6 linked regions of the Homo sapiens genome follow. The protein of the gene in region 2 purifies or fractionates together with the protein of the main gene of each other region. This does not show direct contact. Each region holds a gene or a part of one and is shown on either strand. Other genes may lie near its edges. The genes, in order: FHOD1, CCDC61, NHSL3, TRIOBP, UACA and ADD3.

Evidence for each region.
Region 1: the proteins of CCDC61 (region 2) and FHOD1 purify together in Homo sapiens (tandem affinity purification; one study listed by IntAct). This does not show direct contact.
Region 3: the proteins of CCDC61 (region 2) and NHSL3 purify together in Homo sapiens (tandem affinity purification; one study listed by IntAct). This does not show direct contact.
Region 4: the proteins of CCDC61 (region 2) and TRIOBP purify together in Homo sapiens (tandem affinity purification; one study listed by IntAct). This does not show direct contact.
Region 5: the proteins of CCDC61 (region 2) and UACA purify together in Homo sapiens (tandem affinity purification; one study listed by IntAct). This does not show direct contact.
Region 6: the proteins of CCDC61 (region 2) and ADD3 purify together in Homo sapiens (tandem affinity purification; one study listed by IntAct). This does not show direct contact.

What each region holds. Positions count from the first base shown.
Region 1 is NC_000016.10:67,240,982-67,244,481, reverse strand, and holds part of FHOD1 (FH1/FH2 domain-containing protein 1), read left to right. Parts: intron 1-3,500. UniProt on the Homo sapiens protein: Required for the assembly of F-actin structures, such as stress fibers. Depends on the Rho-ROCK cascade for its activity. Contributes to the coordination of microtubules with actin fibers and plays a role in cell elongation.
Region 2 is NC_000019.10:46,001,967-46,005,466, reverse strand, and holds part of CCDC61 (centrosomal protein CCDC61), read right to left. Parts: intron 2,460-3,500; 5' UTR 2,449-2,459; coding exon 2,301-2,448; intron 2,049-2,300; coding exon 1,966-2,048; intron 1-1,965. UniProt on the Homo sapiens protein: Microtubule-binding centrosomal protein required for centriole cohesion, independently of the centrosome-associated protein/CEP250 and rootletin/CROCC linker.
Region 3 is NC_000001.11:32,769,330-32,772,829, forward strand, and holds part of NHSL3 (NHS-like protein 3), read left to right. Parts: intron 1-343; coding exon 344-457; intron 458-550; coding exon 551-3,112; intron 3,113-3,500. UniProt on the Homo sapiens protein: Able to directly activate the TNF-NFkappaB signaling pathway.
Region 4 is NC_000022.11:37,773,548-37,777,047, reverse strand, and holds the end of TRIOBP (TRIO and F-actin-binding protein), read right to left. Parts: intron 3,266-3,500; 3' UTR 492-3,265; downstream 1-491.
Region 5 is NC_000015.10:70,683,559-70,687,058, forward strand, and holds part of UACA (uveal autoantigen with coiled-coil domains and ankyrin repeats), read right to left. Parts: intron 889-3,500; coding exon 707-888; intron 1-706. UniProt on the Homo sapiens protein: Regulates APAF1 expression and plays an important role in the regulation of stress-induced apoptosis. Promotes apoptosis by regulating three pathways, apoptosome up-regulation, LGALS3/galectin-3 down-regulation and NF-kappa-B inactivation.
Region 6 is NC_000010.11:110,129,984-110,133,024, reverse strand, and holds part of ADD3 (gamma-adducin), read right to left. Parts: intron 2,663-3,041; coding exon 2,539-2,662; intron 721-2,538; coding exon 625-720; intron 1-624. UniProt on the Homo sapiens protein: Membrane-cytoskeleton-associated protein that promotes the assembly of the spectrin-actin network. Plays a role in actin filament capping. Binds to calmodulin.

The sequences.
Region 1 (3,500 bases), on a different chromosome or scaffold from region 2:
GCCCTGGTTGGTGGAAGGGAGCTTGACAGTGTCTTGGGCCGGGCCTAGTGTCCCTGGGGGAACTCAGGAGTGCCTTCCTCCCCTCCAAAATATTCCCCCAGCCCAGACCTGCCTTTGCCAGAGGGGAGAATGTGTCCCTCTGGCCTTGCATCTCATCTCCTAATCTAGAGCCTCCCAGTTCTACCCTCCCTTCTGGGAAGTGTCTCAGGAGCCTCTCCGATACCCAAGGCCCTACCACACCTGGTATAGCACTGACTTCTCCCTGAGCTCCGGGTAGGGGGATCTGGGGTGCTTCTCTGACCCTGCTGCAAAGGCCAGGAAAGCCCTCTCCTCCTGACAGTGGGGATAGCCCTAGAAATCTGGTCATTACTAGCAACTTTGTTTCCCTAGCTGTGGCTAAAAATCAGAGTAGGACAGGGGTGGCACTGTCCTGGAATGTTTCCTGACCCTACCCCAACCCACTCTAGCCTTTTTACATCTCAGGAGCCTTTGGGAGACTGTAGAAAACTGAGGTGTGGGCATGAGTCCTGGTCTCCTCCTAGCCTCCCCTGGGGCTGGACTATCCAATCTGCTGGTCATTCTGGAACAGAGTGGCTGAGCTGCAGACTGGTGAGGGACCCTGACACCTAGGTCCTGGCAGAGGTAGATACTATTATCCTAACTTGCATGGGGTGCGTGTGTCTATTGGTGTTCCCTTACTGGAACTGGGAGGACCAGTATGGGGTATTTGCAGAGTCCAGAAAACTAAGAGGATGTCTTCAGCTCTTGGCAATCCTTCTGGCCCCAGCCCTCACTCCACTTCCCCTCTAGGGTTCCTTGGAGCATTTCCAGGGCCCATCCGCCCAAGATTTGGTCAATTAGCCCTGGCTCCTGGCTGTGCACCCTGGGGCAATGCGCTGATTTTCTGATTCTTGGTTTCCCTATCTGTAAAAGGATTATTGGTAGAATCAAATTAAATAGGCGGCTCAGGCTGGGCATGGTGGCTCATGCCTGTAATCTCAGCACTTTGGGAAGCCAAGGCCAGAGGATTGCTTGAGGCCAGGAGTTCAAGAACAGTGTGGGTGATATAGCGAGACCCTATTTCTATTAAAAAAAAAAAGAAAAGAAAAAAAAGAGGCAGTCCGGTGCCTGGCACAGAGGAAGCATAAGATAACAAAAGTGGATTTCCCTCCCCAAGGCCCATCCTTGTCATCTCATTCAGGAAGTCACACTCTAGTTGGAGACCTGCGATAACAGGAAAGGAGGGTCTTCAGAACACAGGGTCCTGTGTTTATAGGAAAGGAGACAAAAGAGGCAGTTAACCAATTATTTTCTAAAATGAAAGCCCTTCAGCCTATAATCCTGCCTCTTTTCCATCTTCCCTGTACCCTGCTCTGGTATGTTCAGTCTTACCTGATTACACTGTTATTAAAAATATTGGGTAAGACAGTCTAAAGAAACAAGCGGGAAAAATGTATATTTATAAAATATATAATAGATATATGTAATAGATGTCTAGATATATATAATAGATACATAGCTATATATATAAATTATCAATATCTATAGACATCTATATATTATAGATCTATATCTATATATTATACATAGGTAGATAGATAGCTAGAAAGAGAGAGAGAAGTAGATGCCATGGTCCCCTGGGCTTGACCCTGCATATAAAACCATACATAACCAGTTGGTTTTGGGCTGCCAGAAAAGCCTGAGCCTGGAAAGTCAAGAGTATAGTGGGCTGGAGGCCAATGTGAGAAGCTGAGCCTGGGAAGAATGGGGGAAAGACTCCACCCCAAGACAGAGACCAGAGAAGTGAGGAAGACAAGAGCCAAGAAGGTGTCAGGGAAGTGGGCCCATACTACGTGCTGAGCTTAAGCCCCGTCAGCAAGGACCAGGGTTTGGGCTTATTCAGGCCTGGCCCAGCCCCAGGGTGTGAGAAACAAGGCCCAGAGGTTTGGCTCTCAGAAGGGTGACCCCAGGAAGGGGCCGGGGTGTGAGGGACATGTGCCATCCTGCTAGCAGGAAGTCTCCTGCTCTTTGCTGCTTGCCTGACTCTAGCCTACCACCCCACACTTCCACCCAGGACAGACAGCTGGGGGTGGGGAGACACTGTCCTGGAAGGCACTGGACTACCTGTTTCCCTGGACCTCCTCCCCAGAAATGGGGCCCTGGCAGGATTGGACAGGTGAAGTGGCTGAGGAGGCTAGAGAATGTGGACCATTGGCCGGGCACAGTGGCTCACACCTACAATCCCAGCACTTTGAGAGGCAGAGGCAAGTGGATCACTTGAGGTCAGGAGTTCAAGACCAGCCTGGATGACATGCTGAAACCCTGTCTCTACTAAAAATACAAAAATTAGCCAGGCATGGTGATGCACGCCTGTAACCTTAGCTACTCAGGAGGCTGAGGTAGGAGAATTGCTTGAACCCAGGAGGCAGAGGTTGCAGTGAGCCAAGACTGTGCCACTACACTCCAACTTGGGAGACAGAGCAAGACTCCATATCAAAAAAAAAAAGAAGGTGGACTATTTAACCTTCAGGACCCTTCCCCAAATGGATGCAGGTGTCCTGGAAGGAGAGGGACATTCTCTGCTCTCTTGGGATTACAGCATGCAAGGAGGCAGGACAGCGTGGTGGGCCTGACCTTTCTGGGTCTGTGCTGCTTCAGCCTGTGTTGGCCAGTGCATACCCAACCTTATACCTGGGTGTGTAAGCAGTTACCAGGTGTAACATGTTTTCCCTTCCCGTTTATCTTTATAGCACTCTGCCCCTCCCCTTTCTTAGCACTGTGAAAGTTGTGATTCCACATTCATTTGTGAGCTTTTTCTGACTCGTCTGTCTGTCTTCCCGTCTGCCCCACTGGGCTGGAAGGAAGGGAAGGCAGAGGCAGTGTCTAATTCCTCCTAGGTCCTCTGCATCTGAAACCAGCCTGGTCATGAATGTTCAAAGAATGAGCTGTTCTATATGTGTGTGATTCGAGGGGATCCCTGACGGGGGTGGCTCTGGGGTAGGTGTGTTCTTCTAGGGTCCCAGAATCTTCCAGGCCAAGGGAGGGAGATGCGGCTGTGCCTGAATGGGGGTGGGGTGGTAGGCTGCTGAGTCACTGTGTGGGAAGAGATCAGGAGGAATGTGGGTTGCCCTCAGCTGAGCTGGCCCTGGACAAGATACCCCAGCCCTCAGGCCTTGCTGCCCCTTCTCAGGCCTGTTCCCAGTAGGCCCTGGAGAAGATGACTCTGCTCCCAGGGAGGGGAAAGTGGCCAGGCCTGCCCAAGGCACCCTGGGGAGGGCAGGCAGCCAGGCAGGAAGTGGGACAGAGAACAGGCTGGAGTGTTTGTCCTATGTCCCAGGTCCCAGGCGGGGGTGGGCGGGGGGGGGGGTCATCCAAGGGCCCCACAGGCTAAACTGTGGGGAAGGAGCCAGGTCAGGCTCTGAGGCAGGCGCAAGGGTTGCTAAACAGAGGTAGGGGTTGAGGCAGGAGCTGGACTCCCTTTTTCTCCAGGGGACCAAGGC
Region 2 (3,500 bases):
CCAATGCATGATGTTACAAGATCATCCACAGGTAAAAAAATATCCATACAAAATGCAAGATAAGTCAGTGGAATTTAATGTAACAATACAAAAAGTTCACTGATGAGGATGCAGATTCCACATTGCAACTAACCTTTAAGAAACTATCGCTTGTCCAGGCCAGGCGCGGTGGCTCACACCTGTAATCCCAGCACTTTGGGAGGCCGAGGCAGGTGGATCACTTGAGGCCAGGAATTCAAGACCAGCCTGGCCAAGATGGCAAAACCCCGTCTCTACTAAAAATACAAAATTAGCCGGGCATGATGGCGCATGCCTGTAATTCCAGCTACTCGGGAGGCTGAAATAGGAGAATTGCTTGAAATCGGGAGGCGGAGGTTGCAGTGAGCCAATATCATGCCACTGCACTCCAGCCTGGGCTACACAGATAGTATCTCAAAAAAAATAAATAAATAAATACAAAAATTAGCTGGGCATGGTGGGCAGGCCTGTAGTCCCAGCTACTTGGGAGGCTGAGGCATGAGAATCACTTGAACCCGAGACGCGGAGGTTGCAGTGAGCTGAGACTGTGCCACTAAGCCTGGGCAACCGAGCAAAACTCTTGTCTCAAAAAAAAAAAAAAAAAAAAAAAAAAGATATCTAAATACCACCCATCCCTGTCACTCTAAGTTCTAACCTGCTTCTTCCCCCTGATTATTACTTTTAGGCTGGGCACGGTGGCTCACGCTTGTAATTGCAACACTTTGGGAAGCCAAGGCAGGAGGATTACTTGAGATCAGGTATTCAAGACCAGCCTGGCCAATACAGTGAAACCCCATCTCTACTAAAAATACAAAAATTAGCCGGGTGTGGCGGCACACGCCTGTAGTCCCAGCTACTCGGGAGGCTGAGGCAGGAGAATTGCTTGAACCCAGGAGGCAGAGATTGCAGTGAGTTGAGATCACGCCACTGCACTCCAGCCTGGGAGACAGAGTGAGATTCCATCTCAAACAAACAAACAAAAACTTTTAAATACCTGACATTATGTATTTTTTCATTTGTCTGTCTCTCCAAAATGTCAGCCTCATGAGGACAGGGGTTTTGTCTGTTGTTCACTGCTGTATCGCCAGTGTCCCCCACAATGACTGACACACTGTCAATGCTCAGCAAATGAAATGAATGAATGGCTATATTCACTGATGTGACTACATTTTTATGAGATATTGCTGAATCCTTTAAAAGCAAGTTGCAGGCTGGGCGCAGTGGTTCACGTCTGTAATCCCAGCACTCTGGGAGGCAGAGGCGGGTGGATCACCTGATGTCCGGAGCTCCACACCAGCCTAGTCAACATGATGAAACCCCGTCTCTACTAAAAATACAAAAAATTAGCCGGGCATGGTGGCGTGCGCCTGTAATCCCAGCTACTCAGGAGGCTGAGGCAGGAGAATCGCTTGAACCTGGGAGGCGGAGGTTGCAGTGAGCTGAGATGGTGCCACTGCACTCCAGCCTGGGCGACAGAGCGAGACTCCATCTCAAAAAAAAAATAAACAAACAAACCAAAAAAAGCAGGTTGCAGAATACCTTGGAAATTATATAAACTATATATAATTACAGATCTGCAAATGCATACACACACACACACACACACACACACACACACACACACACACGTATTTGGAAACAAACAGAGACATGGAGAAAGGACTGGAGTGATTTTCACCAAAATATTAACAGAAGCGAGTATTAGGGCTGGAGTGATTTTTACTTTCTTCTTTATATTTCTCTGTGACCTAAATTTTCTACATGAGAATAACTATCATTAAGTTCAAAATGAAGCATTTACACTTGGCAAAAGAAGAAAATGATCGCCCTCTTCCCACAATGAAAGAGAAGGTAGAGGGTCTTACATACATCAGATGGGCATCAACCCCCCTGGAACCTGGAAGACAGAACCCCCCTCCCACCCCAACCCGCCAACCCGGGCCCTACCTGAGTGAGGGCTGACTCCAGCATATGACAGAAGATGTTGAACTGTTTGAAGTTCCCTGTCTTGTGAGTCAAATCTTCAATGACTGGGTGGGGAGAAAAGTCTCTCCTGAGGTCTGACCGCTTGCCCAGCCCCAGGGCAATGCACCTAAGCTCTGCAATTCTACCCGACTCCAGTGTCTCTGGCTTGAGCAACAAGACCTACACCCCTCCCCACACTGGAGAGTTTCTGGTGACAAAGAAGAGGCAGGTGGGCAGGATTCAGGGTGGCCTGATATTCTGGGAGAAGCTGATCCCAGGAGAGGAAAGGTGAGCCCACCCCAGGCAGGCACACTCACAGCCAGCATCGAACTCGCCCCGCCACTGGTCAGCCGTCATCCGGTCCTCCACCTCCAGCTCCAGCACCTGCCCAGAAACCATCACCCGCACGGCATGCTCCACACCCCGGAAGACGTAGTCCACCTGCAGGCCAGCCGGCTGGTCCATGGCCAAGGTTGCTGGAGAAGGAGATGAGAGAGAAACCTAGAGGAGCTCAGAGCCCAGGCTCATGAGTTGGAAGGCCAGGCCTCATATCCTGGCTCCATCATTTACCAGCTGTGGCATCCTGGGAAAGCGAATTCACCTCTCTGTGCCTTAGTTTCCTCATCTGGAAAATGGGTATAATAATGGCACCAACCTCGTGGACTTGTTGTGAGGATTACATTGGGCAATATGTATAAAAGTACTTGGTACTGTGACCTGGAGGCTGTGTCCAATATGTGCTGGATACTAGAAATTCATGATTGCCAAGCCGGGCGCGGTGGCTGACAACTGTTATCCCAGCACTTTGGGAGGCTGAGGCAGGAGGATCACTTGAGCTCAAGAGTTCAAGACCAGCCTGGGCAATGTGGTGAAACCCCACCTCTACTAAAAATACAAAAAAATTGCCAGGTGTGGTGGTGCATGCCTGTGGTCCCAGCTACTCGGGAGGCTGGAGGCAGAGCTTGCAGTGAGCTGTGATCTTGCCACTGCACTCCAGTCTGGGTGACAGAGTGAGACCCTGACTCAGTTAAAAAAAAAAAAGAAAGAAAAGAAATACATGATGGCCAAAAAAAGAATCATGATTAATATTAGTATTAATTTATTAAGTCTTATACTCATTATATATTTATTATTATTCATTCATTCATTCAGCAAACATTTGTGGAGAAAAGTCAAGCTGGAAAGAGGGACGGGGGTATTGGAGTAGGATGAGCCAAGCTTTTAAAAGGGGGTCAGAGCAGGCCAGGTGCGGTGGCTCATGCCTGTAATCCCAGCACTTTGGGAGGCGAGGCAGGTGGATCATGAGGTCAGGAGTTCCAGACCAGCCTGGCCAACAATGGTGAAACCCCATCTCTACTAAAAATACAAAAAAATTAGCCAGGTGTGGTGCCCCGTGCCTGTAATCCCAGCTACTCCGGAGGCTGAGGCAGGAGAATCGCTTGAAGCCAGGAGGCAGAGGTTGCAGTGAGCTGAGATGGTGCCACTGCACTCCAGCCTGGCGACAGGGGGAGACTCCA
Region 3 (3,500 bases), on a different chromosome or scaffold from region 2:
ACCTTGGGAAAACCCTTAACCTCTCTGAACTTCTGTTTGATGTTCTATAAAAATGAGGATAAGTACCCTATTGGAATGAATGCCAAATGTTTAGAATGACGACTAACACGTAATAATATGTTTACTAAATAGTAAGCTATCACTAAAGGGAAATTACCATCATTGACTTAGTAGCCTTAGTCTTACAGAAAGAAGCCTCTAGCTTTGTTTAACCTAGCCTTGCCCATACCTACTTGACTGTGGAAACCATTTCTCGCAGAGCTCTTATTACAAAAGTAGTGCCCTGCAGAATGTGCCTGGAGTCCTTTGCTCTAACAGTTTTTCTCCCACGACTGGCCCCCAGGCTCCACCTTCCGACCCCATGACTCATTTCCCAAATCTGGAAAGTCAGGGCGGCGTCGGCGGGAGCGGCGGAGCACTGTGCTGGGACTCCCGCAGCATGTGCAGAAGGAGCTTGGTGAGGCCTGGGTTAGGAGGGCAGTGGTGGGGTGGGTGGGGAGCCTTGGTCATCCCCTCTCTGCTGACCCCACCTCCTCCCTGTCCCTTCCAGGCCTGAGGAATGAGCGTGAGGCACCAGGCACGCCCCGGGCTCCTGGTGCACGGGATGCCGTACGCATCCCCACAGTGGACGGCCGCCCCCGAGGCACCTCAGGGATGGGGGCCCGGGTGTCCCTGCAGGCGCTGGAGGCGGAGGCGGAGGCTGGCGCTGAGACAGAGGCCATGCTGCAGCGCCACATTGACCGTGTCTACCGGGATGACACCTTTGTTGGCCGGTCCACGGGTACCCGGGCCCCACCATTGACCCGGCCCATGTCCCTAGCAGTGCCTGGATTGACAGGAGGGGCAGGGCCTGCAGAGCCCCTGAGCCCGGCCATGTCCATCTCCCCCCAGGCCACCTACCTGTCGAAGTTGATTCCACATGCTGTGCTGCCGCCTACAGTGGACGTGGTGGCCCTAGGCCGCTGCAGCCTGCGCACACTAAGCCGCTGCAGCCTGCACTCGGCCAGCCCAGCCTCAGTCCGCTCGCTGGGGCGCTTCTCCTCCGTCTCCAGCCCACAGCCCCGCAGCCGCCACCCATCCTCCTCCAGTGACACCTGGAGCCACTCTCAATCCTCCGACACCATTGTGTCTGACGGTTCCACCCTCTCCTCTAAGGGTGGCTCTGAGGGCCAGCCGGAGAGCTCTACGGCTAGCAATAGCGTGGTACCCCCTCCCCAGGGAGGCAGTGGGAGGGGCTCTCCCAGTGGGGGCAGCACTGCTGAGGCCTCAGACACACTCAGCATTCGGAGCAGTGGGCAGTTGTCTGGCCGGAGTGTGTCCCTGCGTAAGCTGAAGCGGCCTCCACCCCCTCCCCGCCGGACCCACTCCCTCCATCAGCGGGGCTTAGCAGTGCCTGATGGGCCATTAGGGTTGCCCCCTAAGCCTGAGCGTAAGCAGCAGCCCCAGCTGCCTCGGCCACCCACCACTGGTGGCTCAGAAGGGGCGGGGGCAGCACCCTGTCCACCCAACCCAGCCAACAGCTGGGTACCTGGCTTGTCTCCGGGTGGTTCCCGGCGCCCCCCACGGTCCCCAGAACGGACACTTTCGCCCTCCAGTGGATACTCGAGCCAAAGTGGTACTCCCACCCTCCCTCCCAAGGGCCTGGCAGGTCCCCCTGCTTCCCCAGGCAAGGCCCAGCCCCCTAAACCAGAGCGTGTCACGTCTCTTCGCTCCCCTGGGGCCTCCGTCTCCTCTTCCCTCACGTCTTTATGTTCCTCCTCCTCTGACCCAGCCCCCTCAGACCGCTCTGGGCCACAGATATTGACCCCCCTGGGTGACAGGTTTGTCATACCTCCTCACCCCAAGGTGCCTGCCCCCTTCTCCCCACCTCCCTCCAAGCCCAGGAGCCCTAACCCAGCTGCCCCTGCTCTAGCCGCCCCTGCTGTGGTTCCTGGGCCTGTTTCTACCACTGACGCCAGTCCTCAGTCCCCTCCCACTCCCCAGACAACCTTGACTCCACTGCAGGAGTCTCCTGTCATCTCCAAAGACCAGTCACCCCCACCTTCCCCACCCCCATCTTATCATCCACCCCCACCACCCACTAAGAAGCCAGAGGTGGTTGTGGAGGCACCATCTGCCTCAGAGACTGCTGAGGAGCCCCTCCAAGATCCCAACTGGCCCCCTCCCCCACCCCCTGCCCCTGAGGAGCAGGACCTGTCCATGGCTGACTTCCCCCCACCAGAGGAGGCTTTTTTCTCTGTGGCCAGCCCTGAGCCTGCAGGCCCTTCAGGCTCCCCAGAGCTTGTCAGCTCCCCGGCTGCTTCGTCCTCCTCAGCTACTGCTTTGCAGATTCAGCCCCCGGGTAGCCCAGACCCTCCTCCAGCTCCGCCAGCCCCAGCTCCTGCTAGTTCCGCCCCAGGGCATGTGGCCAAGCTCCCTCAGAAGGAACCGGTGGGCTGTAGCAAGGGTGGTGGGCCTCCCAGGGAGGACGTAGGTGCGCCCCTGGTCACGCCCTCGCTCCTGCAGATGGTGCGGCTGCGCTCCGTGGGTGCTCCAGGAGGGGCTCCCACCCCAGCACTGGGGCCATCGGCCCCCCAGAAACCACTGCGAAGGGCCCTGTCAGGGCGGGCCAGCCCAGTGCCTGCCCCCTCCTCAGGGCTCCATGCTGCGGTCCGACTCAAGGCCTGCAGCCTGGCCGCCAGTGAAGGCCTCTCAAGTGCTCAGCCCAACGGACCGCCTGAGGCAGAGCCACGGCCTCCCCAGTCCCCTGCCTCAACGGCCAGTTTCATCTTCTCCAAGGGCTCTAGGAAGCTGCAGCTGGAGCGGCCCGTGTCCCCTGAGACCCAGGCTGACCTCCAGCGGAATCTGGTGGCAGAACTCCGGAGCATCTCAGAGCAGCGGCCACCCCAGGCCCCAAAGAAGTCACCTAAGGCTCCCCCACCTGTGGCCCGCAAGCCGTCTGTGGGAGTCCCCCCACCCGCCTCCCCCAGTTACCCTCGAGCTGAGCCCCTTACTGCTCCTCCCACCAATGGGCTCCCTCACACCCAGGACAGGACTAAGAGGGAGCTGGCGGAGAATGGAGGTGTCCTGCAGCTGGTGGGCCCAGAGGAGAAGATGGGCCTCCCGGGCTCAGGTACAGTGGGCAGTGCTAGGGTGAGGTCCCATTGCTGATGATGGGAAGTAGGAATCTGAAGTCCCGCCATGGGGGATTTGTTCTTGGATCTTTAACTTTTCTGGTCTGAGAATGCCTGGGAAGGGCAAGCTGTCACCCTTGCTGGGGCCCAGAGGAGAATGGTGTGTGAGTGTCAGGCCTACTGTGTTTGAATTCCAACTTTGCCTCTTTCCCTACCCTTCCTAGCTACATTGTAAAGTGTGGGGCAGTGACACCTACATTATAGTGTCTGAACATGTGTAGGGTGTCCAGCCCAGTGCTGCGGGCACTGTCAGTAAATCAAAGCGGTAAGAAGGTTGGGTGAGGGTATGCTTTGTTGGGCTCCTAGTGCCAGAACCAAGCCAGGAGG
Region 4 (3,500 bases), on a different chromosome or scaffold from region 2:
CCCGGGTTCAAGCAATTTTCCTGCCTCAGCCTCCCGAGTAGCTGGGATTACAGGCATGCGCCAGCAAGCCCGGCTAATTATTTGTATTTTTAGTAGAGACGGGGTTTCGCCATGTTGGCCAGGCTGGTCTCGGAACTCCTGAGTTCAGGTCATCCACCTACCTTGGCCTCCCAAAGTGCTGGGATTATGCCTGGCCGGCATGGTGAATTTTTACATCTGTATGTACCCACGTGACCACAACCCAGACCATGATATAGAACATTTCTGGGATCAGAATGTTCCCTTTTGCCCACTGCTGGTCAATGCCCTCAGCTCAGAGGTACCCGCTCTTCTGACCACTATCACCGTGTTTTGTCTGTTCTTGAACCTCACCTAAATAAAATCGTACAGCCTTACACTCTTCTGTGGCTATTTTTGCTCAACATTGTGTCTGAAAGATTCACCAACATTTTTGTGTGTAGCAGTTGTTTTTAAATTGCTGTATTCTAACGTATGAATCGACCACAATTTATTCATTCTACTACTGACACACAGCTGTATTGTTTATTTGCTGATGTGAGTATTACGGTACTCATCCTTTTGTGCATGTAAGGACTCATTTCTCCTGGATGTGTAAGCAAGAGTGGAAATGCTAGGCCATAGGGTAGATGCGTATTTAACTTGATGAGAAGCTGGTCAGTTTCCTGCCGTGGGTGCAACAAAGCACATTTGCACCAGCAGCGCCTGGGAGCTGCTCTTCTCCGTATCCCCACCAGCACTTGGTACTGGCAGACCTTCTCCTCTGAGCTATTCTGATAGTGGGGCAGTGCGATTTCACGGTTTTTAATGAGATGTGGAGCACCTTTCAGAGGCTGGCCTGGTTTTTGTAGCTGCCCTAGGCAGCCCTGAGGAGGGATGGGAGGGGGGTTGGTGAAGAGGATGTTCCTGCAACCCAGGTGTGAGACGGGGGAGCCCTGAGTTAGGTTGAGGCTAGAAGGGAGGCAGAGGATGGGATGGAGAGCTGTCTTGGGGGGACGGTGGGATGGTGAGGATGGACGGCAGAGCTGCCAGTGGCAGGCATCCCATCTCCCAGTGGCTAGGAACACTCCTGATCTCCTAAGGCAAGCAGTGCCGAGACAGGGCAGCACAAGGCCGGAGGATTTGATGGCACGGGGTCCTGGCTCTTTCTTCTTTGCCATTTTTAGCTATTGATGAGGGAAGATGGCGACAGGGCCAGGAGAGAGGTGTCCTCTCCTTGCGCCACCCTCCCCCTTTTTTTTTGAGATGGAGTTTCGCCCTTGTCACACAGGCTGGAGTGCAGTGGCGCGATCTTGGCTCACTGCAACTTCTGCCTCCTGGGTTCAAGTGATTCTCCTGCCTCAGCCTCCTGAGTAGCTGGGATTACAGGTGCTTGGCACCACGTCTGGCTAATTTTTTGTATTTTTAGTAGAGACGGGGTTTCACCATGTTGGCCAGGCTGGTCTCGAACTCCTGACCTCAAGTGATCCCCCTGCCTTGGCCTCCCAAAGTGCTAGGATAATAGGCAAGAGCCACCGCGCCCGGCCTCTTGTGCCTCTTTTTAAGACCAAGGACACCCTTCCCAGATGACCTCCTCCACCCCACTCCCAAGACTTCCCCTCGCATTTCACTGGCTTGCGTGAACTGCAAGCCTTGTCCATTCCTCAACCAATCCCTGGCAAGGGAATGGGAAACAATCTCTTCCCACTCCACGAGGTCACTCTCCTGTGGCTCTTTGCCTGAACACACCAGGGACGTTTGCTCCTGCTGGTGCCTCCACGTGGGAAGGCCCTTCCTGATTCTTCCATCTGGAAGAGTCATCTTTCAAAGCTGCCTCCAAAGGCAGTCTTCTACCTGCAGGCTGGGTCAGGGTCTCCTCTGGGTTCTCACAGCCTTCCAGGACCCCTACTGGATGTGGCCTGTTTCTGTGGCTCAGAAATGGGACCTCTTCCCAGCCCCATGCAACCATAATCAGCACAGCCAGCCATGGTGAGGACTCCCAGCCCGCTGGACCTGTGCCTGGCAGCCACAACCCTGCCCTCACCCCTGCCCAGGGCTGGGCATGACCTCTGGGAAAAGCCTCAGGAGAGGACTGGGACTGAAAGAAAAACACCCATTTGATGGAGAAGCAAACTGAGGCTCAGTGAGGGGTGTGACTTGCCCAAGGTCATGGTCAGGGCTAGTCTTAGCCCCAGGCCTCTCTCTCAGGCCTGGGCCCTGGGCCCTACTCCAGGGCTCCTCAGACTTTGAAGGTCACGTGAATCACTGGGGCACCCTGTTAAAATGCAGACGCTGGTTCAGTAGGTTGGGGTGGGACTGGACTTGCTATTTCCCACATGCTTCCGCTGCCACTAGCCTGCAAGCCACACTGGGGGCGTCACAGTCTGTACTAAGGGAGACCTTGGATTTTCAGCCCCACCCTCAGAAGCCTAGAGGCCGCTGCTTTAGGAAGGGTGGGGTGTGGGTAGGGTGTGAGTGGGGAAGCCACTTCAAGAAACCCCAATCTCCATTCCTGTTCTGCCAGCCATCTAGGACACCAGAGCTGCTGGAACGTTTTATTAAGTTAAGAGGTTCAGGGAGCAGAAGAGAAACACCTTTTGGGTGGCTCTGGCGGTTCTGCACCCAGCACAGCCTCGAAGGAGGCTGTGGGGCCATGGAGGCCAGCTGCTAGCTCCCTCTGTCCTGAGCCCCATGGTACGGGTCCAAATGGGGCAGGAAGTGTTAGTAGGAGGTAGGGCAGGAAGAGGGTGGCAGGCTCCCGCCTCTCCCCTGTAGAGACACCCCGCCATGGCTGCTGCCTGGGCCTCCGCCAGACCTCTGGGCCAGGGCCACCAGCTCAGAAGCCCAAGCAGAGGGTGGCTGGAGACAGAGGGGGACCAGGGTTGGAGGCACACAGCCACCAGGAATTGCTTTTTTTTTTTTTTTTTAAAGTATAAAGTGTTTTGGAAAAAAAGGAAAAAAATCTATATAAAAATCTCTTCACATATAAAATCCTGAAGAAGGTGCAAGGTGAGACCCAGTGCGAGGGGCGCGCTCAGATATGCAGTGTGTGTGTGTGTGTGTGTATCCGTGTGTACATGTGTGCACGTGTGTGCGTATGTGTCTGTGTGTCTGTGTGTGTGTGTGTGTGTGTGTGTGTGTGTGTGGTGGGTGCAAGTGCACGTGTGGCCCACAGAGGGTGGGGAGAAAGCTTGGCTTTTTACTTCCATCCAGGAGGGAAGGAGGGCGGCTGGTCCTCCAGCCTGGAGGGTCTGCAGCTGGGCGGGACCTGAAAGACAAGGTGCGGCAGGGCTGAGGCCTGGGCTGAGGGGCTGCGAGGCCACCCCAAGGCCAAGCAAGGGTGCTGAGTGGGTCCTTCCACCACCTCTCAGCCCCTAAGGTACAGCCAGATCCGCTCTTCCTGGCTCCTTCCCAAGCAGCTCAGCCATAGGGTGGCCTCTCCTGCATGCCATAGGAAGTCCATGAGGACTTATCAGAAAGAGGATGCTCCAGGTAGATGTGGC
Region 5 (3,500 bases), on a different chromosome or scaffold from region 2:
TTATAAATAGCTTAAACACTACATGTAGAAAACTGCTTTATTAAATGAAACTTAAATAAATGGAATCTCATACACCAACAAAAATCATACTATAGAAAAACTATTTTTGAGGGAAAGGCCTTCAAAATAGGTTACATAAAAAAGTAAGCTACAATTCAGATTTACAGTGAATTCAATTTAATGGGAAAAGACTAGAAGGATATTTCTCAAAATGTTAACAGAGGCTTCTCAGTGGTAATGAGTGACTATTCATTGTGCTTTTCTGTATGTTCCTGTTTTTTTTAAAAAAAACATAAAAAATCATGGCATAGGCATTTGGTAAATATCAGCTGACTATTTTACATACATGTTTAAACAATGATTCTTTAAAACTTCGTAAGTATAAAAAGTTGGGAGGTTCACCCCTCTTCATCAAAAAAAAAAAAAAACTTAGTAAAACACTTGACTCTTCCTTCTCAGTTCTGAAGTTATTCCAGTGTCTTAGTGTTCACTGGATAAACTAGATTATATATGCAACACACACTGCCTCAAAGCAAGTGACCATAATGTAAGTAAGCAAATCCATGTTGTAGAGGGAGATGAACCAATACTGTTTATCAGTAAGGAATGTTTTGCTTCTTATAAACTGTAGTTCTACTACCTAAGTCTTTTAAAAAGTGGCTCTTTGTTAATGTGGACTTTTCTAGTTACAGAAAACTGCTGATACCTTTGTTGGTATTTTCCGATGCAGTCTTCAACAAGGTTAGAATGTCCAGATTGTCACCAATTCTTGCATAGTAAGAACTATCATGGCCAAGCGCATCCAGCAAGCTTATATCAGCACCATTTTTAATTAAGACTTCTACTGCATCTCTGCAACCATATTCGCAACCTAGCATGAGGGCAGTTCTAAATGGAAAAATGGAAGAGCAAAAGACTGAGAAAACTCCAAGGAAATATTGCAGAAATATTCTGCCCTATTGTTGAACACTGTCTTAGTGTTCACTGGATAAACTAGATTATATATGCAACACACACTGCCTCAAAGCAAGTGACTATAATGTAAGTAAGCAAATCCATGTTGTAGAGGGAGATGAACCAATACTGTTTATCAGTAAGGAATGTTTTGCTTCTTATAAACTGTAGTTCTACTTGAACACTAAGTTCAAGTAAGTGTTCAACACTACTTGAACACTTACTTGAACACTAAGACATGCTCCCTTCTTGAAGAATAGACACTACTTTAAGAAGTCATGCCTGTTACAGATATAGATTTTACTTTATATTCATTGCATTTATAAAAACATTTGCTTTGTCTTCTATATCCTTATATCCTTTAATTACTTCTACTACCAAACCAACCTCATTTATTCCACTTCTTCAATGTCCTACACGTAAATAATCACCACAAAAATTTTCCACAACTGATACTGTCACCCCATGTGATCAAAACCCAACTTTTTCAGTCCCTTCATGAACTGAACCACATCATGCAAACCTCCCCTAAGAATCCCTTCTCCTCCAAGAGAAGTATCAGATTCCATTCCTGATGTTCCTGCTTAGAAGAACCTTGATTCTTCTACCTGAAGACCTTCACATCTTCAGACTACAACTAACGCCATGCAACATGGATCATTGCTTTATTCTATTGCAATAGAACCACTGGCACTCAAACATCTCACAGTACATCAGCAAATACTAATCATGCAACAAAATAATTGTCATGAAAATCTAGAAGGACCCTAGAAATTATTTTGTCTAATCCTCTATTTTTTAGGATGGGGCTAACCAACACGTAATGAAATGAAATGACATATCCTATATCTAACTCTGTCTTCAATTGTGAATATTGGATCTCTTAAGGAAACTGACTCTTGCCTTTTCTCTGCTATGTATGCTGTGTTTCTCATATTCAAGCCTTGTCCCCCAACTCCCCTGTAGTTGCTGATAAGAAATTCTGTACAAAACAGGCATTAACAAAGTTTTTGTTATTTAAAAAATGCTACATATAAAACAGGAAAAAAAGAAATGAATATAGAGTATTAGAAACTAAGGTTATAAATTATGTTGAAAACCATATGCTATTTAGTCTATACAATATACACTGCCCTGCTTCATTGGCTTTTTGTGAATGCCCAATGAAAAAACATAGATAAAGTGCTTTGAAAAATGTGAGAGCTATAAAAAATATAAAGCACTGTATGTAGATCAACCAGATTATCCCTCTGTGATCCTAAAATTAAATTTAACTTTTTTTTTTTTGAGACAAGAGTCTCGCTCTGTTGCCAGCGCAGTGGCATGATCTCAGCTCACTGCAACCTCCGCCTCCTGGGTTCAAGGAATTCTCCTGCCTCAGCCTCCTGAGTAGCTGGGATTACAGGCACGCACCACCACACCTAGCTAATTTTTGTATTTTTGGTAGAGATGTGGTTTCGCCATGTTGGCCAGGCTGGTCTTGAACTCCTGACCTCAAGTGATCCGCGCCCAGCCGTAAAATTTAATTTTAAAATCCAATTTTCTTCATCATGCTTGGAATCAGATGATAGTATCCACAAAAACAAAGTAATATTAAAAAGCCACTTCTTAATCACATCTTTTTTTTTTTTTTTTAATATTTAAAGAGGTTTATTCTGAGCCAAATGTTAGCAACCATGGCCCATGACACAGCCTCAGGAGGTCCTGAGAATGGGTGCCGGAGGTGGTTGAGTTACAACTTGGTTTTATACATTTTAGGGAGACAAAAGTTACAGGCAAAGGTATAAATCAATACATATAAGGTATACATTGGTTTAGCTCAGAATGTCAGGACATTTCAAAGTAGGGGCTTCCAAGTCAAAGATTTCCTGATTGGGAATTGATTGAAAGCATTAAGCTTTGTCTGGAGAATTGAAGTCAATATAAAGAAATGCTTGAGTTAAGATAAGGGGAGTTGTAGAAGCCAGGGTTCTTTTTTTTTTTTTTTTTTTTTTTATACTTTAAGTTTTAGGGTACATGTGCACAATGTGCAGGTTAGTTACATATGTATACATGCATCATGCTGGTGTGCTGCACCCATTAACTCGTCATTTAGCATTAGGTACAGAATTTCCTCCTTTGAGATGCATAAAGAAAACAATTACAGCTATAAAATCTGACAACTAAAGACTATTTTTTATACTTTTATACTTCTAATAAACTACAAACAATAGAATACATGTTTGGAAGAATAAAATTAAGTCAAAAGAAACCAAAATTTTTACTAGTAACTACAAAAATCCCAGAAATTTTAGTTTAATTTATTGTAATACTTGAATTAAATGGAAGGGGTGTGTTTCAGATACTTTGTGACCATAAACTTCAGAATTGTAATACAACAAGCACCATGATACATTAGACCTACAGACAGAGATAGGGAGAATTCTGGATAGAAATTATTAGAGCACACCAACTAAAATAGTATCAAATACAGAAGCAAAAATAAAGCAAGGGACCTCTGCAGTACAGAAATGGACAGGTTCAGAGTAGGAGATGGCACTGTACCC
Region 6 (3,041 bases), on a different chromosome or scaffold from region 2:
AGTTTTGGGATCATTTGGCAATCAATACTGAAAAAGATTTCATGCTGCTGATTGGGAGATGTTTAATTCCACAAATTCTTTTTTTTTTTTTTTTTTTTTTGAGGCGGAGTCTCACTCTGTCGCCCAGGCCGGAGTGCAGTGGCAGTCTTGGCTCACTGCCAGCTCCACCTCCCGTGTTCATGCCATTCTCCTGCCTCAGCCTCCCGAGTAGCTGGGACTACAGGCGCCCGCCACCACACCCAGCTAATTTTTTGTATTTTTAGTAGAGACAGGGTTTCACCGTGTTAGCCAGGATGGTCTTGATCTCCTGACCTCGTGATCCACCTGCCTCAGCCTCCCAAAGTGCTGGGATTACAGGTGTGAGCCACCGCGCCCAGCCAATTCCACAAATTCTTAAGAACTGCGGGTTGCCAAAATTCAGATTAAGGTAAATCAATATAAATGCTGAACAAAAGTAGCGCCCCATTTTTAATGATATAAAATATGTAATTATTGGGAGATATAAGTAAAATATGGAAAACTTACTGTGATGAGGTATTCAACTTCCTCACGTGAAAACAAAACACAGAGGGACAGACTCAAGACTAACTCAGTGAATGCTATGTGGGAAATTACATTGAGTACCTTCTAATTTTTCAGGGACATTTTGCGGTGACTGAGTTTGAGACTGAATTTGTGAAACAGATGAAGCGTCATCTGAGAGTAATTCCTGCTCAGCATCTGTTGGATAAGAGTTTAGTTAAAAGCCATGCAAAACAAAACAAAGCAGCATATGATTTTAGGGAGGTTAGTGCATACATCAAATGCCTGTATACAAAGAGATGATAAATTCTTCAGCAGTGAGCTGAGCATGCTAACAGTTATCCCATATATCCATAATTATACATTAAGAGGAGGTTAATGTGTTAACATTTCTGGCTGCTAATGGTTATTTTACGTACAGGTTACAAAAGATGCACAGCTGCTGGCAGCCCAGGCAAATGATATGTTGCATGTAGCTCTTGCTAGCATTAGAAAACCAAAACATACTGCGCAGACAGATGAAAAAAATTATAAAGCCTCACCAATGATGCTACATTAATGAGGCAGAATGCTTCACAGAATTTTTGAACAATATTTAATTAGTGATACCTGTCAGAGCAATGTTACTGAGCTAATTCATAAGGTCATAATAAATGTGGAAGAAACTACTATAAAGTTATATAAAAAAGGTGACGGTTCTAGAGTGCAACATTTGTTACCTGGCATCTTTAGGCTTTCAAAAAACAAGAGATTAAAGAGGGATATTTTACAAAATATGAAAAACAGAGAAAGCTCCCAACTTTATGTTAGAATAAACAAATTCAATAACACCATTTAGAAAATTTAGTATAATTACATTAATGAATCAGGACAACTCCCTTTTGTGACAAAGGCACAAAAAACTGTTCCTTGGATGATCAAGATGTCATTAGTTCTTCCTAAATGATATCTAACATGGACAAAAATTCATTAACTATTGGCTTATTTTGCTTTGCATGAAAATTTCAACTGTATGTTGTGGATGCTCTAAAGCAGAGGCTCCTTACCCTCTTTTTGGGTGACAGGCTTGTTCCTGACCCTGAACCCTTCCCTCCCTAAATGTGTACCTTAAACAATAAAGCATGTATTTTTCAGGTGGCTCATGGACTGCCTGAAGCTTATCCAAAGACTCAAGATAGAGAACTCCTGCTAGGAAGAATCTCTTATTCCAGAGAAAAAGGGAGCTAGTAGTCAATTGTTTAAGATGTTTTCATTAACAAGTCTTAAATATAATCCTAACAATCTACTTACTAAGGGTTCCAAAGCCAGAAAACTCAACCTACTAGAGTGTCCGTGTGCTTAAGGAAAGTCACATCAAAATTTTAGCAGTTAGTTTTAAATTTTGAAGTGACAATGTTGGCACCTTGAGATAACCAGAAATAGAGATTTTACAAAGCATCAAAACTACATACTTATGAATCTGTAATTATTTAAAATTAAGAGAGTTAAAAAGCCACATAATTATGAAATGTTTAAATCCATTAATTTATCTACATCTACTTTGGCTAGTAATTCTTTACTCATCTGGGAATCTCACTTTCTAGAAGATTTTACTATAAAATAGTAGCATTCAGATTGTTTTTTTTCTTTTTCTGTTTTTTTTTTTTTGAGACGGAGTCTCTCTCTGTCGCCCAGGCTGCAGTGCAGTGGTGCGATCTCAGCTCACTGCAACCTCTGCCTCCCAGGTTCAAGCGATTCTCCTGCCTCAGCCACCAGAGTAGCTAGGACTACAGGCGTGTACCACCATGCCCGGCTAATTTTTTAATTTTTAATAGAGACGGGGTTTCACCATGTTGGCCAGGCTGGTCTCAAACTCCTGACCTCAAGCAATCCACCTGCCTTGGTCTCCCAAAGTGCTGGGATTACAGGTGTGAGCCATTGTGCCCGGCCACACTGACTGCTTTCTATCATCCAACGTGAGGTACTTTATTGTTATCAGTGTGGCTTACCCTAGGTTGAATGTAAAGATTAACTAACCTTCTAGGCCTTGTTGTTTACGTTCGATTGTCCTCTTATACTCTTCAAGTTCTCCTTCTGTGAGATGACTAAATGGGTTAGGAGGAGCTGGTGGGCCATGATCATCATCTTCAAATTGCATAGTCTTACAAAGAAAAAATAAAAATCGATTCATTACCAAGAGTTTTACTTATATATCTATCCATCCATCCATCTATATACACATAAATGCAAATATGATGTTTGTGAAGCCTTATTTCACAACAATCCTAAGAAATGCAAGGTAACATGCTTTGTTTAAAATGCTCTTGTAAGATTGATGCCCTTAAACTACTAATCCAATGGACTAAAATTGCCAGTGATATTTCCTCAATAAGCCTGTATAAGTAAATCTTAATAATTTTTAAAAACCATTATGCCAAGTTCTAATAAGTTTCACATAAAAAAAACTTGAAAAAAACAAGAATTGCTCCATTTTAAAGACCACTGTAAAAAAGGCTTACAGAAATGAAACTGTACCAAAA